Linked DNA regions of Homo sapiens: region 1 is linked to region 2. Evidence: fine-mapped expression QTL. Tissue or cell type: whole blood. Region 2 holds a variant in brackets; the other region holds the start of a gene. All regions are shown on one strand. Distances are from middle to middle.

What was found. PIP is the estimated chance that this variant, and not a neighbour inherited with it, causes the effect.
Region 1: ADSS2 starts here. The variant in region 2 is fine-mapped to the expression of ADSS2 in whole blood (TOPMed, PIP above 0.99).

What each region holds. Positions count from the first base shown.
Region 1 is chr1:244,448,405-244,456,404 of GRCh38, forward strand. ADSS2 (adenylosuccinate synthase 2) reads right to left here and starts at 3,505. Exons shown (of 13, transcript NM_001126.5): 1 at 3,231-3,505. The coding sequence starts at 3,413. It also overlaps a transcript of CATSPERE not described here. RefSeq lists silencers at 2,685-2,964, 3,405-3,894.
Region 2 is chr1:244,382,942-244,391,206 of GRCh38, forward strand. SPMIP3 (sperm microtubule inner protein 3) reads left to right here. Exons shown (of 5, transcript NM_001012970.3): 5 at 6,010-6,722. The coding sequence ends at 6,128. Among named protein-coding and RNA genes, the nearest start is that of SPMIP3, 34 kb to the left of the region's middle. The variant T/G (reference allele first, on the strand shown) is at 4,571.

The DNA of each region.
Region 1 (8,000 bases), 65 kb after region 2:
CATATATCAAGTGATGGGGTGTGCTTTCCCTTATGACTAACTTTAGTATTTTCTCTTTTTATTGACTTTGAAGCCTTGGAGAGAATACACACGGAACACTGCTCTAGCCTTTCCCGATCACAGGCAACTTCATGTGTGTCATTATAACCAAGACCACCGAAGTTACTTTCCTCAAGAACAATAAATAAGTAAGCCTTTGCTTAAAGCCTGGTATAAACTACTATAGTTAAGAAGTTTCTGTAGCTTCTACTCAGCAAAATACAGAAAACAAAGCACAGTATTTTACTTTGAGAGAACTGGGGAAAAAACAGTATTAGGCTTCCTTTTGTGATGCCAGAAAGGGACTTTCTTGGTCCCATACTTTAACCTCTTGAGAAACGTATTAGACTAGTACCTTTCTCCATCCCGACCTTCTCAACACTTTTGCTTACACAGCAGTTGTCCCCCAGATTGTGAGCTCCTTGTGGGCACAATCCCTGCCTTTTTCAGATTTTTGACTCCCAGGCTAAGTGATCCCCTGCAGATACTCAATGTTTACTAGATGAATGACCTGTACCCAGGGTTGGGCCTCTATTTAATTCTTCTCTCTTCTTCTTAAAATAAATATTGATTTAAAATTAAGGCAGCAGTAGTGGTTGTCCTTTGATGCAAGTCCTACATATTTATGGATCTGGGGAACCTACCAAGTTATAAATAACTCCCCATAAATCCTGAATCTGAACAACACAGGCCTTAAGCGCTGTTAAGAGTGAAAACGCCACTAGGTTTGCATCTATTGTTTCCAAAAAGGCATTTTATACATTAAAATTTATCATTAAATGCAATGCCAGTTTTTCTTTTTAAAACTATATTTTATGTTGGGAGAAAGTCCTTATGAGTCTACTGGTGAAATACGGATACATTATGTGTACATCACTTCTGGAGAAACAGTACTGAATAAAATTTGAACTCATGACATAAATATGGCAGAATATATTAAACTCTAACAAAGGACATATTTTCACTAACACACAAAACTTAAGACATCAAACAAGGCAATCCAAGCTCACAATGTCTTACTGTTGATTTTTTCCAGCTCTCTATACACACTCACTAAGAACTTCAACATTCCAATTTTATAACCTAGGGGAACTTCATTAAGTAGATGCCAGCTTACTAGGGCTAACCAAATAATACAAAGTTACCAAGGTAAATCACAAAAGAGATAATGCTTAAATCTATTCATTACTCATCTATTTTTTGCTAACAAGACTAATAAAGAATCCTAATGATACACTTTTAAAAAGCACTAAAAGAACATAAGGATTCTATAAGGAAGGTAGTTAAGTCAAAAATACACAGGTGAGGGAAGTCTGCCCAACAAGGCCCCTCATTTGTTTCTCCACTATCTTCAGCTAACATTTTAAAGCCAAACTTAGTTCCTTCTCAATCACTTCTCTAGCCTTTCCAAGGGCATCAGATCAGGTTGGTCCATGACTTCAAGACTACTTTCTCGGTAACATTAGTAACACCTTCTCCAAGCTACAAACTACTTCTAATATTTCTCCATAGAATATTAAAATTGAGGATCCTTTAGAATAAATACCATAATGGTTGTGTTCTCCAAACCTTCTTACAACCCATAGTGTAGCTCAACCTGAGCTATTTCCATATTAACGAGATGTCAAGATGTCAGTGAAGGAGACACACAGGCCTCAGCCTCTCTCCCGCTGTCGACAGCAAGAAAGCTCGGTATTCGGATACGTCTTCCCCACAGCATGACCAGATCTGAATGTAAGACAAAAGGTAGGTAAAGGCTGGATTTCTGGAGTATTTCCTAAGAAAGTGCGGGGCAGGAATTTAATGGCAACACCCTGAAGATTGCTAAGGTACAAAGTGTGTTGCCAGAGGGGTGGAGAAATAATAGGCTGGAAGGGAAGGAGGGAGAGGTGGTAGTGACAGTTTCCTAAGAGGCAATTAGTGCAACAGCTATTTCAGAATGGGCAGGGTGGATTTCTAAATGAAAACAAAACAAAACGAAACAAGGTAAATCAGAGAATATTTGCAGTATTTGCATTTAGCTTTTTAACATACCTGTGATTTCATTGTTTCTGCATGCTCAAAATGGTATTCAAGGGGGCCTATAACTTACTAGAACATATACAGCATGGCACCATCATATCATGCCATGCATGTTCAAAAACAAATATTCTTGCAACCTAAACAGATAGCAGTTAACTTCAAATATTACATTATGCTTTGTTTTGAAAGTGGTTATTGCTCATCTGCTTAGAATTTTGAAACTGGAGAGAGTTATCTGAGAGCCTTTACAAAGGCCTTACCCTGTATGCTGCGTCAAAGGAAACGACAAATAGGAAGAAAGGTTACACTGAAAACCACGTGTCTCCCGTTAGAAGTACATTACCACCTCGTTTTCCGAAAGTTCACTTTCGATGTCACCTTAACAATGCAAATATTTATTTCCAAATACTCAATTTGACATCCATGTATTTACTTCCCTCACTTTTTTTGAACAGAGAAGGGATTCCTTCCTCTGGGACCAACTAGTAAAAGTAATTTCTCCTTAACTTTCATGTATGGAGCACACTGTAAAAACAAAAACAAAAACAAGAAACTCAGGGCCCTAAAACAACAGTCCAAAGCCCAGAGGTGGGTGGGTTTGGATGTCAACAAAGTGGACCAGAGGAAGCAAAGCACTGCATGCCACGGTCCTGCAGATGGGGGATCGGTGAGTCTGATTTCAGGACGTTTCGAAACAATCCACTCCCACTCCGCCGCCCTGGGCGGGGCGGGGGGGCGGTGATGGGGGGTTCTGCCGTCGCGCCGGGTCTCCGCCCGCAGTCGGAAGAGTTGGGAGCAGGCCTCGGGCGGTAGCTCCTCAAACTCGGACCGCATCCCACCTCCACCCCGGCCTCAGTCCCGGCGCTGAGCACCACTCGCCAGACGCAAAACTGCAACTGCCAGGCATCGCGCATCTCTCAAAGGCTCCCCGCCAGCCCACCTCTTCCTCCAGGGCCACCCCAAGTTTCACCCGACGCTCCAGGTCAGGGGTCCCCGACCTCCCGCCATTTCTCCACGTAGCCGCAGCTCAGGACAGGAGGAGAGAGCCTCAAGGTGACACCTCATTTTGGCCAGTGGATCCGGGTTCTGGGTCCGAGTTCCCGGGCACCAGGAGCCAGGCAGCCCGAGCTCCCGGGCCCGGCTTCCCATGAGAGGCCCCGTCGCCTCACCTGGCAGCGGCACACGATGTCGGCGTCCTGCGCCAGCAGGTCCACCACCTTCCCTTTGCCTTCGTCGCCCCACTGCGCACCGAGCACCACCGTCACCCGGTTTCCTCCGGGCCGCGCCCTGGGGCGGCCGCAATCGCCGTTGGGCAGGGAGGATGCCGCCGGGTAGGTCTCGGCGAACGCCATGGCTCCAGTGACGCGAGGAGAGCCCGAAGGAGAGGCGGCCGGCGAGGAGTGAGCGAACTGAACTGCTCTGCGGCCGCCAGCCACATGCAGAGGAAGAAGGAGCCAGAGGCCGGCCCCGCCCCCGCCCCGCCGGGCCGCCACCCTCCAGCCAGTCCCCGCCCCGCTCTCCGCCACAGCCCGCTCAAGGGGGTACCATGACTGCCCCGCGCAGGCCGGCCTCGGCAGCACCGCCCGCAGGAAGAGGCCCTGGTGGCGGCAACGGCCGCCACCCCGGACCGAGGCCACGCCCCTTCCGCGGCCTGGCGCGCCACTCCCGTGCAAACCTCGCGAGCGGAAAAGGTCAGGGGCGGGGCTTCGAGAGCGCTTCTCCTTCAGCACCCCGCCTACCCGCTCTACCTCTCGCTTTCAAACTGGAGAGGCGCGGAAGCGCGTGTGGAGCGTCGGACTACAAATCCCAGCATGCAACGCTCTGGGCTGCGGCGGTGTATTCTGGGGCCACTGTGTCTGCCATCTGCAGGTTTGTCTGGATTTGTCTTTATTAAGGAATGAATGTGTACAAAATACAAACTGTGGAATTTCGCAGTACAAACAGCATAAAATCGGAACGTGTAAGTGTAGAATTGGAAATTAAAAGTCCGGAAGTAACAGAGATGGGGACAGGGATCAAAAAAGACAAAATTCAAAAGTAAGGCAATAAGATAAAGGACATGAGACCTGAAATCAATAGATCAAATAAAGTCCTAATCCTCATTTTACATAGTAGTAACAAAGGCTCAGAGAGGAGGAGTGGATTACCTATGTCGCATATAGTACATATATGCAGATACCGTCATGCACTTCTTTATTTTTTAATCCCCACAACCATATAAGGTAGGTGATCCTCTATTATCCTTATTTTACAGGATTTAAAAGCTGGGTAACTTGCCCTAGTGAGGCTTGAATTGGTACTTCGATAATCTAAGTCCAGAGCCCATGTCCTTCCTGTAGATTCCACTGTCTCTCAGTTACATTTGTAACTAGATTCTGGTGTATACCTACTGTTCATCTAATGCCCTTTCGACACCAACACAAATTAACTATGATGTTTAATTCTGATAAAAGGTGCTTCGAAAAAAAGTGGGAATGGAATCACATTATATGTACCGTCTCCCAAATCGCCTGTACATACTGTATGTTCACTAATGGTCCCTAGAGTACACTTTAGTATTTTATTTCTAGTCAATGAGTTAAGTCAGGAACATTGAGAACCTGCTATTAACTAACTAAGTGTCCTGGGCACTGATAACATAGGAGAAATAAAGATACAATTCAGCCCTCAAGGATTCAAATTATTTGGTCTATTGATTAGTAAACAATTATAATACTATGTGATAATTGTTGTCTATCTTGGCCTTATTACAAGATCACAAACATTTTGGAAACAAGAATGCCATCTATTTCTTTCTAGTCAAATGCCCGAGGTAGTGTTGGGCAGATAGTAGATACTGAATAAGCACACCTTACTAGTCATTTCCATTCAATTTTTTAAAATCATTTATGGGAGACTGATTTGAGTAATAATAAAACTCTGGTTTCCTGCACAGCCAGCTCTACATGAATTACTCTTTCTCTATTGCCATTTGCCTGTCTTGATGAATTGGCTCTGTCTAGGCAGTGGACAAGGTGAACCCCTTGGGCGGTTACAAATTTGGGGGCTTGTCTGGCATTGCCTTTGTGGCTACCTACTCGTGGTTCAGTGGCCCCCCTCCAGCAATGGATCCAGAAGCCTGCCCAAGCGGCCACCCAGTTCTCTTGGACTGGGGGCTGACTCTGGTACTCTCTCTACTGGTGGGGTGCTGCCAACCCAGTGTGCATGGATTTAATTGCAATGGAGAAATAGCCCCGGGGAGACGTCCCTTAACTGTAACCCTATCACAGGGTGTCTGTCTGTAGCCCCATTGCAGGGCAGGGTGTCTGGATTGGTGAGTATCCTAGGTGCTGCCAACGCCTCCTTTCTCCCAACTGGTTCTGTAGCCCTATGGTGAGGTGTCTGTAGCCCCATTGCAGGGTGTCTGTTCGGCTCCTGGGGGGGTCTCATTTGGCTCTTTCTAACTAGTAGGAAGAGTCCAGGTTTGGGAGACTTCTCCTGAATCAGGAAGATTTCAAGGAGGTTTCTCAGAAGGAGAATAGGAGGATAGTTTGGAAGGGATACTCCCGGAGTTCTTGGTTAGGGATCTGATTGGGAACGCCTTCTGTCCTCTCGTCTTTGTGTGCGTTTGTATATGTGGAAGGGATCTCAGAAGAGGTTGCTGATGGAAGTCCAGCAGACCTAACTCAAAACCCTCCTTATTTGTCTGGTCACATTTGATGAGCCCTACAGAAGGCTCAACAGGCCTGTCTCGGGGTGACTATCTGCTCTTCGTCTTGCCCAGAGACCCCATTGTGAATTACCGTTCGGAGGTCATCCCTCCCCACCTGGAGTGGATCAAAGACAACAGGGACCAAAGAGAAAAAGTTTTTGAGCTTTGCCAGGCTGATATTGGGAGCTGAACGAGGTGGCTAATGTGTGTTTTGTTATGTGTGTTTTGCTGGGATGGAAAATGTTAATTCGGTTCCCCATGCAGCCCGCTGGGCAGCATCTTGCAAATTAAGAATCTCGTCTATGTTTCCATAAAACAGTAAAGGGTGATTTTCTCTTGTAAAGTGGCTTGAACCCCACAGCTATAGCACAAGCAAGCAGGGTCATCAAAAGCCACTCCATTCTTCTGGAAACTGCAGAGAAAGGGAACCCGGAAATCTGGTATGCCGGCACAGAGGGTATGAAATTCTTACCGGACCGGTTTGTGGTCTCTCTCTCTCTTTCTCAGTAAATAGTAAACTGTTTACCTCCTCTGCAAGGGTTTGATAAATGGAAAAAAGGATTTGTGAGACTAGTCTTAGGCTGTAGCAAATCTGGTGTAGTTTTGTGCTAAGAATTTGTCTTTCTGTGTTCTGTAGTGGATAGATGGGTGTCACAGGATAGAACGTGGGTTTAGGACCCCTATAAGCCTGCTTTTCAAGCCGGCTTGGCAGGCTGGTCAGTTACAAACTTTGCTACAGGTCCCTGAAGCCAATACTGTATGAAATTTCTCTGTCTTGTTTTGTGTCCTGAAGAGCTTAACTTTGTGACCATGTGGAGATACTTTCTCTTGGTTTCCACCATCTAGAAGACAGGAATTTGGGGATTTTTAGGTTAGCCCTAAGAATTTTCTTGAGCAGTTAAAAGCCTTTGCAAGCTTGAAACTGGCTTCTGTAGGCTCCTTCTGGGAAGCACAATAGAAACTGCTCAATACTGTGTAACTCAGTAGCTAAGGTTTTGCCTCTTGACAGTGGGGGGTCTGGGTTCTATTCCTGGCTTCTGGAATGATTCCCTTCTGGTTTTTTATTTCTGTAACTTTGCCATTTATTGAGGTTCCCGCGTCCCCCCGCTCCCATGAATAGCTTCTGATTTCCTGTCTTGAATTTTCCTTTCTCTAAACTACCCTGGGGGAGATTCTACATCTTGTAGAAAAAAAAACTGCTTACCATCTCTTTGAGACACCTGTGTGTCCATGGTTATAAACTTAGTTAAAACTTAATTTCAGGTGGGAAGTTACCTGTGGTAGAATTCAAAAGCCAAAAATATTGGCCGCTTGGCGTGGCTAAAGTTGGGTATAAAATTTTTAAGGGTTTTTTTTTTTTTTTAAAGAGCGCTATGGTTAAAAGTCAGCTTAATTAAAAGTGGATAAACAAGCTGTAGGTATATTTAAAAGGCCTTTATGTTTCTCTCTTCTTGGATCTTGTTTTTCTGGAAAAAGATTATTTTTCTGGAAAAAGGTCTTTTTTTCCTTCTCAGTCAACTGAATTATTTTCCTCCACTTTTTTGTTTTGCCTATCTTAATGTACACATGAGAGGCCCTGAGATAGCTTCTGGTAGCCTGGGACTCCTTGGGAAAAACAGGAGGCACCACAGACCCCGTTTTGGAAAAAAGCTCTGTTTTCCTCATGAAACCCCAAGAATTAAAAGCAGACAGATCCCTCTCAAAATCCAAGGCTCTATTCTGTTTTGCATTGTGTTATCTGACGGTTTTGAGTTTTAGGGGCATCAGAAATTACTTCTCATTCTGAGAGAGCTTTGGTGTATAACAACTAGGTAGGAAATATACTTTAGGAGTTGGCTAATAGTAGTTACGGAGGCATACTTGGCTCTTCGCACACTTGGATCAGAGAAGCATGCTTTGGCCACCTGGAAGACATGGAAACACCCCCCCGCCCCCCAACAGAGAGATGAGAATCCCATGGGGGATGGTCTAATTACAAATGGACTGATTGGCTTTGGGTTGCGTTGCAGTGAAATGCATAGTTGGTAAAAGCACTGCACTGTCTTCTCTCGAAGTATTTCCGTCCTCTTGGGATCCAGGATCCAGTGTAAAGCGGCACCCTTAATTTTAAGAATCCGTCTTTGCCTTCAGCTGCTTGTTTGGCCCTAGAAACACAAGCTTTCCTAGCCCTGTTCCTCCAGGGGCTCCACCCTGAAGCCAGTAATCCAATTAAGAAACTGGCAAACAAAAAATCTTACAGGTGCTGAAT
Region 2 (8,265 bases):
GTTTCTCAGGCAGACCACTGAGAAACAATTTAATAGGTTAGACCAGAGATGATGGTGGCTGGGACCAGCAGGGAAGATAAAGAGGAATAAATGGATTCCAGCGATATTTTGGGGGTGGCATCAACTGGACTTGGTGATATATTTGATATCAAGAACACTTTCACTTACCCACACATATTCCTTCAGGAAATAATTTGAGGGCCTATTTAAGTGCCAGTCAATGTGACAGCTTTTAGCCATACCACATGAAGCAAAAATAGACACAAGATTTCTACACTCAATAACCATGGATGGGTGTGGTGGTGCATGCCTGTAATCCCAGCACTTTGGGGGACCGAGGTGGGAGGACAGCTTGAGGACAGGAGTTTGAGACCAGCCTGGGCGACGCAGTGAGAACCCACTCCTACAAAAGAAATTTAAAAATTAACTGGGTGTAGTGGCCCCTGTGGTCCAAGCTACTCAGGAGGCTGAGTCAGGAGGACTGCTTGAGCCCAGGAGTTTGGGGCTGCATGAGGTATGATTATACTACTGCACTCCAGCCTGGGCAACATAGCAAGACCCCAACTCTAAAAAAATAAATAACCATAAAAGTCTACCTGCCTTAAATGCTATAAGGCAGAGTTTATATGGGGTTATAGGAGCATATAGTAAGTCAGAGAAAGCTTCCCTTAGGAAATGATGAGCCAAGAGCTGAAGGATAAGCTAAAAGTTAACTGGGCAGAGAGTGGGGAAACAGGTTCATAGAGAGTACAGCATGTGCAAAGGCCTTGTGGCAGGAAGGAGCATGACATGTTTGAGGAACTAAAAACAATAAGGGTGTGCTGGAGTATAGGAATCAGGAGGGATCATGGAGCAGGGTGCGGTGGAGGGATGGGAAGAAAGACCAGAGTATGAAAGACGTTACAGGTCATATTCAGGGTTTGGCCTCTAGTCTGAGAATAATGGGAAACTGTTGAAAAGTTTTAAGGAAGGCAGAAGTAATGATTACAATTTCATTTTGTGAGGGATAAAAGACTACAAATTGGGTTCAGTGTACACTGCTCGGGTGATGGATGTACCAAAATCTCACAGATCACCACTAAAGAGCTTACCATGTAACCAAACACCATCTGTTCTCCCCAAACCTATGGAAATAAAAAATTAAAAAAAATTCATTTTGAAAATGTTCCTCTAACTGTGGAGAAGAAAAGGAGGGGCAGGGTGGGGAGCAGCATGGGGCGAAGATTGAATGTGGAGAGTCAGGAGGAAATTGCAGTGGTTAAAGTTTTTTTCTTTTTTTGAGACAGGGTCTCACTCCCATTGCCCAGGCTGGAATGCAGTGGTGCAATCTCAGCTCACCGCAGCCTTGGCAGCCCAGGCTCAAGTGATCCTCCTCCCTCAGCCCCCTGAGTAGCTGGGACTACAGGCATGAGCCACCACACCCAGCTACTTTTTGTATTTTTTGTAGAGACAGGTTCTTACTATGTTGCCCAGGCTGGTCTCAAACTCCCGGGCTCAAGCAATCTGCCCACCTCAGCCTCCCAAAGTGCTGGGATTACAGACATGAGCCACCACACCTGGCCAGGTTAAACATTCTTAATTTTGGTTACATTGCTTGGAGTTTTAAAAAATCTGGACGCCCAGGCTATACCCAATACCAGTTAAATCAGGATCTCCGTGTGGGGCGGCAAAGTGGGGGTCCCAGGCATCAGTCATTTTTAAAACTCCCCAGATAATTCCATAGCGCAGCCAAGTTTGAGAAGCAGTGATTTAGGCAGCAGATGATGGGTGTTGGCAGTAGATTTAGATACATTTGAGAGATGCTTAGGTGGCAATGATTGTATAAACAACAATAGGCTGGCAAAGGGCTGGTCTGCAAGAGGCCTGACAAGCACTCCTTGAGGGAGTTTTTCACAGAATAAGAGAAAGAATATTAAGTTGTTTATCAAAGTATAGGCTGTTTATCCTAACCATTTGGCCAGTTTTTGTTTGTTTGTTTGAGATGGAGTCTCACTCTGTCACCCAGGCTGGAGTGCAGTGGCGTGATCTCAGCTCACCACAACCTCCACCTCCCAGATTCAAGAGATTCTTCTGTCTCAGCCTCCCGAGTAGCTGGGATTACAGGCACCCACCACCACGCCTGGCTAATTTTTGTATTTTTAGTAGAGACAAGGTTTCACCATCATGGTCTCGAACTCCTGACCTCAGGTGATCCACCCGCCTCGGCTCCCCAAAGTGCTGGGATTACAGGCATGAGCCACCGTGCCCAGCCTAGGCCAGTGTTTGATCAGATTTTCAGGGCAGAAGGTATGTCTAGATTAGCAAGGATTTACATTTATGTTCAGTTCTCTGAGGTGTCTGATTAAATATAGACCATGATAGATCATGGTTATTGCTTAAGAAATTCTTCCTCAGTTAAAATTATTTCTCAGCACATATAATTTCATTGATTTCCTTAGGAAACATTTTTTGGGCACTGACTATGTGCAAGACAGAGTGGAGGGTATGGAGAAGGCTCTGTCCTCAGAGAATTCATAGCCTGGGAGGATAAGATGGCCCCTCAGAGGAAAGTTACCCTTGTATTACTCACCCTGGTGCCAAATAATTCAAATAACTCATTTTTCCAAAATAAAATATATGCCTTTACCAACAGCGTGGCCCTTAGGCTCTCTGACCCTCAATATTCTCACCTGCGAAAAGCATAAAAATAGTATCTACCTAATAGAATTGAGATACCCATATAAAGAATGTAAGCATTGTGCCTGTATGTACTATTACTATGCCTTCAAAAATGTTAGTTACTATTAGTATTATTGATCAAGAATAATGTATGCCAGAATCAATATCTGTAAAATACTAATACAATGGAATTGCATATATCACTGAGATTAATTTCTAAAATCGGTGCACAAGGTAAAAATCATGCATGATCAAAGTAATCCTTGAAAAATATCTTAGACTGGCCAGGTGCGGTGGCTCACACCTGTAATCCCAGCACTTTGGGAGGCTGAGGTGGGTGGATCACCTGAGGTCAGGAGTTTGAGACCAGCTTAGCCAACATAGTGAAACCCCATCTCTACAAAACACACACACACACACACACACACACACACACACAAATTAGCTCACGCCTGTAGTCCCAGCTACTCAGGAAGCTGAGGCAGGAGAATTGTTTGAACCCCAGGAGGCGGAGGTTGCAGTGAGCCAAGATCGCACCACTGCACTCCAGCCTGGGCAACAGAGTGAAAATCCATCTCAAACAAACAAAAACTCTTGATTGTTAAAGAGTGATATTATATTAAATCATTAACATATTTGGAATACACAGAATCCTCAGCAAGGTGGTTAAAGTTTCTCTGTGGTTATCAACTAATTATTCATTTTATTTTCCAACAATGACTTTCAAAGGAGTCACCACCACAAATCCACATGAACAATAACTGCATTTTGTCTGATGATAAGGAAATCCAAAAAATCATTTCACACTTTCTTCTCATAGCATCCCCAATCTGTGTAGCACGTTTCAGGGTTGATAACACCCACTGTTCTCACAACATTGACTGTTGAGTTCACCTGGTTAAGTTGTGTATGATTCAACCCCATCGTACAGCCTGCAAGGATCATGAGGAGTTGCTGAATGGAATTCCTCACACTTCTAAATTACTTTAATACATTTCCAGAATATAGTGTAATTAGAAGGCCATCATTGCTATTTGACTCCATAAAAAAACTTGAAAAGTCATGTGGTTGCTGACTACAGACAGGATCACACTCGATTAAATCTAAAAATCCTCAAAGATCTCATTTCTAGTCATACTCCTTGGGTTAGTGAAATGTTATCCATTCTTAATATCCAGAAATGTTTATTTCTTGAGATACTGTTGAAGCACTAAGGAATGCAGACTAGAACAGTGAAAGATTAATGATTTTGGAGTCTGTTCTGTGTCAGATGTGGACTGCACCTCTTATAAGCTATGTATACTTGGGCAAATTAATCTTTTTGAGATGGCAATATCAGTGTACAACTGAGAATTACTCTGAATATTAATGTAATAAACTCTAATATTCACCTAATAATATAATAAAGTTTTGTTACAATGCAGCCGGGCGCAGTGGCTCACACCTGTAATCCCGCACTTTGGGAGGCCAAGGTGGGCGGATCACTTGGGGTCAGGAGTTCGAGACTAGCCTGGCCAACATGGCAAAACCCCATCTCTACTAAAATACAAAAATTAGCCAGGGGTGGTGGCGGGCACCTGTAATCCCAGCTACTTGGCTGAGGCAGGAGAATCACTTGAACATGGGAGGTGGAGGTTGCAGTGAGCCGAGATGGCGCCACTGCGCTCCAGCCTGGCCGACAGAGTACGACTCCGTCTGAAAAAAAAAAAAAAAGTTTTGTTACAATGCTTTTGAAACACTAGCCTTTGGTTCCTTGAGCAATAATTGTATTAAAGTGAAGCTCTCTTTGAACCCTTATTTTTAGATAAGCAAAATTGTTAATGATTATAGATTAGAGGTTATAAAATACAAGGGAACACCAATGGGTATGAATTTAGGAACGGCAGTATCACCCAAGGTAGGAGAGTGGGTG[T/G]AGACATGTGAAATCTCAAGTAAGACCAGTAGATTTTGAGTTCTGCCTCTGCCATTTCCTGGCTGTGTGGCCCTGGGCAATGTACTTGTCACTCTGTTGCTTCTGATAGCAAAAGGGATGGTGAAATAGATTCAAGTTGAAGAAAGATAAGGTGTAAAGTGTTTTCTTTGGCTGTTGTGTGGAGGTTGGATTACAGCAGGAGTGTAAGGAAGAGGAAAGGATATCAGTGTTTCAGGTGAAGTCCAGGTGGCCTGGACCAGGGTGTGATGGGGGAGTGAAGAGAAGTAGGAAGTGAAAATTAATTGGATTTGGTTGGTGAGAGAGTGGTCAAGGGTGACTCCCAGGTTTCTAGTTTGTGTTATTATAAGTAACACAAAAGAATGGATGAACTTCATTGATTTCTTTGCTTTTCTCTTTTTTTTTTTTTATTTTTGAGACGAAGTTTCACTCTTGTTGCCCAGGCTGGAGTGCAATGGTGCGATCTTGGCTCACTGCAACCTCCGCCTCCCGGGTTCATGCAATTCTCCTGCCTCACCTTACCGAGTAGCTGGGATTACAGGCACCTGCCACCACGCCCGGCTAATTTTGTGTATTTTTAGTAGAGATGGGGTTTCACCATGTTGCCCAGGTTGGTCTCGAACTCCTGACCTCAAATGATCCACCCGCCTCGGCCTCCCAAAGTGCTGGGATTACAGGCTTGAGCCACCACGCCTGGCCTATTTTCTATTTATTGTGATATCTATCATACCTGCAAAAAATATTTTGTATATATTCAATTTAAAGAGTAATAATAAAATACTTATTTATTCCTTAGGTCAGTTGTGAAAAATAATTCCCTAATATACTTAAAGCCTTTGAGTCCCCCCATCCTTCCCCCCAGACGTACTCTCTATTCTGAATTTGTGTTAATCTTGCCTTTGCTATTGACTGTTTTTACCATATACGTATCTATTCCTAAATAACATAGTGATTGATTTTGTATGGTTTTGAACTTTGTTTATTCTGTTTGGAGTTCATTGAACTTTTCTAATCCAAAGGTTTATAGTCAATAAAATTTGAAAAAACAAAGAAACCTCTGAAAAAAGAGAAAAAAATAATTTAGGGATGGCAATGAGTACAATTTGATACAAAATAATGCACTGATAATGTACGACTAAAAAGGTTTGGGGGTACAGAATGAGATGTCGACATGCAAATTTATGTAATTTATTTCATTTTATTTACATTTTGGCATAATTCAATAATATGCCTCTTAATCAGAGACTGAACCAAAGAAACAACCTTTTGACTGAGTCCTTTTTCCCACATTTTAAATGCATTCATTTGTCTTAAACCCCAAAAGTTATTTTGTTACTGTGCACAACTGCTAAAAGGACAGTGTGTTAAAAATTAGGAGTGAGTAGTCTTTAAATAAATCCTTAATTTGTTTTAAATTCCAGATTGGAACCAGAAATTAGCCACAGTTTCGCTGAATCCTCGACCGCTTAATTCACTGCCAGAGCTCTACTGTTGTGAAGAGAGAAGCAGCTTTGAAAGAAATGCTTTTAAACTAAAATAACCACGGCATTCGAACAAAATAACGTTTGGCATTCTTAGGTGGCCCTTTTAGACTAAGTTAATGGCAGCAGAACTACTTTCAGTTTCAGTGTGTATACAGATGGCTATAATCCTAAAATATTTACATGTTGCAAATTCTTTGCAGATTAAGTTGGTCAGCTTAGAACAGGGAATCAAGATCTATCCTTAAGAGAACTTGAATTTAAGCCCCACTCCCAGTCTTATTGCTGATGCTGGCAAGCTATCTTACATTTAGGCCAATGTATACGCAGGATCAGGTAAGAAGATCATTGTGTCTGCACAATAATTGCATCGCTGTTGGGAAAAATAAAAAAAAGAACCGGGGGGACATGGCCAATTATAAAGAAAACTGGCACTGGAGACCCTCAAGGGGCTCTGGATGGAGAAACCCAGGTGTAGCCTGAGGCTGTAGCGAGATGTGGGACTGATAAAAAGGATTAACTGAGAGTCTGTGTCCAGGAGTTAGCACCCCTATCTTGGCAAGAAGAAAGCCTGACAACTAGGCATCAGCTCCTCAGGCAGAAAGCTAAAGGGTCTTCTCTAGGGAGAGGAAAGAATCCCAAAGGAAAAAAACCTTACATTTGGCTTCTAGGGACCCCTGCCCTCCCCCAGTTCCCCAGCATACTAGTTGACTCCCTCCTCACTCACTCTAAAGTAACACCTATTAACTGATAAACTTCTCCCAAGAATGCAGAGTTCCATATAGTTTTCCATTGCCTTAGTCTTAAATGTGAAGGGCCAATCAATGATCAAATGATAGGGTTCTCCAGAGAAACAGAAACAGAATATATATATATATACATATATATTATTATATATCTATAATATATATTATTAATAATCTAATAATATATTATTTTATATATAATATATAAATAATAGATATATTATTAATAATCTAATAATAGATATATTATATATATAAATAGAATATATATATGTATTATGTATGTATGTATGAAATGAGGATTTGTTTTGATGGATTGGCTTGTGCAATTATGGAGGCTGAGAAGTCCCAGGATCTGCCATCTGCAAGCTGGAAGCTCGTGAAAGCTGGTGGTGTGGTTCCAGTCCAAGTTCGAAGGTTGGAAAACTGGGGAACCAATGTTGTAAGTCTAGGTCCAAGTTTGATGGCCTGAGAACTAGGAGTGCTGATGTCAAAAGACAGGAGAAGATGCATGTCCTGGCTCAACCAGAGACGGCAAATTCATCCTTCCTCCATCTTTTGGTTCTATTAAGGCACTCAAAGGATTGGATAATGCCTGTCCACGTTGGTGAAGGACACCTGCTTTATTCAGTCTACTGACTCAAACACTACTCTCCTTCAGAAACCCCTTCACAGATACACCCAGAAATAATGTTTTGCCAGCTAACTAGGCATCCCTTAGCCCAATCAAGTGAACAAATAAAGTTAACCATCAGGCCAGGTATAGGGGCTCACTCCTGTAATTTCTGTGCTTAGGGAGGCAGAAGTGAGTGGATCACTTGAGGAAAGGAATTTGAGACCATCCTGGGCAACATGGTGAAACCCCACCTCTACAAATAAATACAAAAATTAGCCAGGCATGGTGGTGCATGCCTATAGTCCTAGCTACTCAGGAGGCTAAGGTGGGAGGATCACCTGAGCCTGAGGAGTTCGAGGTTGCAGTGAGCCATGATCACACCACTGGACTCTAGCCTGGGTGACAGAGTGAGACCCTGTCTCGATTAAAAAAAAAAAAAATTAACCATCACAAGTTTACCCCTTGTCAACTTGGCACCCATAAACATCTTAAACCATACTTAACTTCCAAATAAATAACAAGGTCATAATCCTGCCTAACATGATATTAACATTCTGCGCACAACCGAAAACACACTAATCCCAGGGTGTTTACCTCCCGGAAGAGGAGGTGAAGTCTTTGAATGATGTTTACTCTTCTGATAGTCTATAACTTAAATACTATGATGTAGCATTAACAATACTCAAATACTATATATAAGGTCAGTACATCTTATGTTATATGATGAGGGAATAAGACAGGAAATAAAGCAAACATTTTTGCCTAAAATATGTATGTATACGTACAAACATGCTTATTAAAAAATGAGGCCGGGTGCAGTGGTTCACCCCTGTA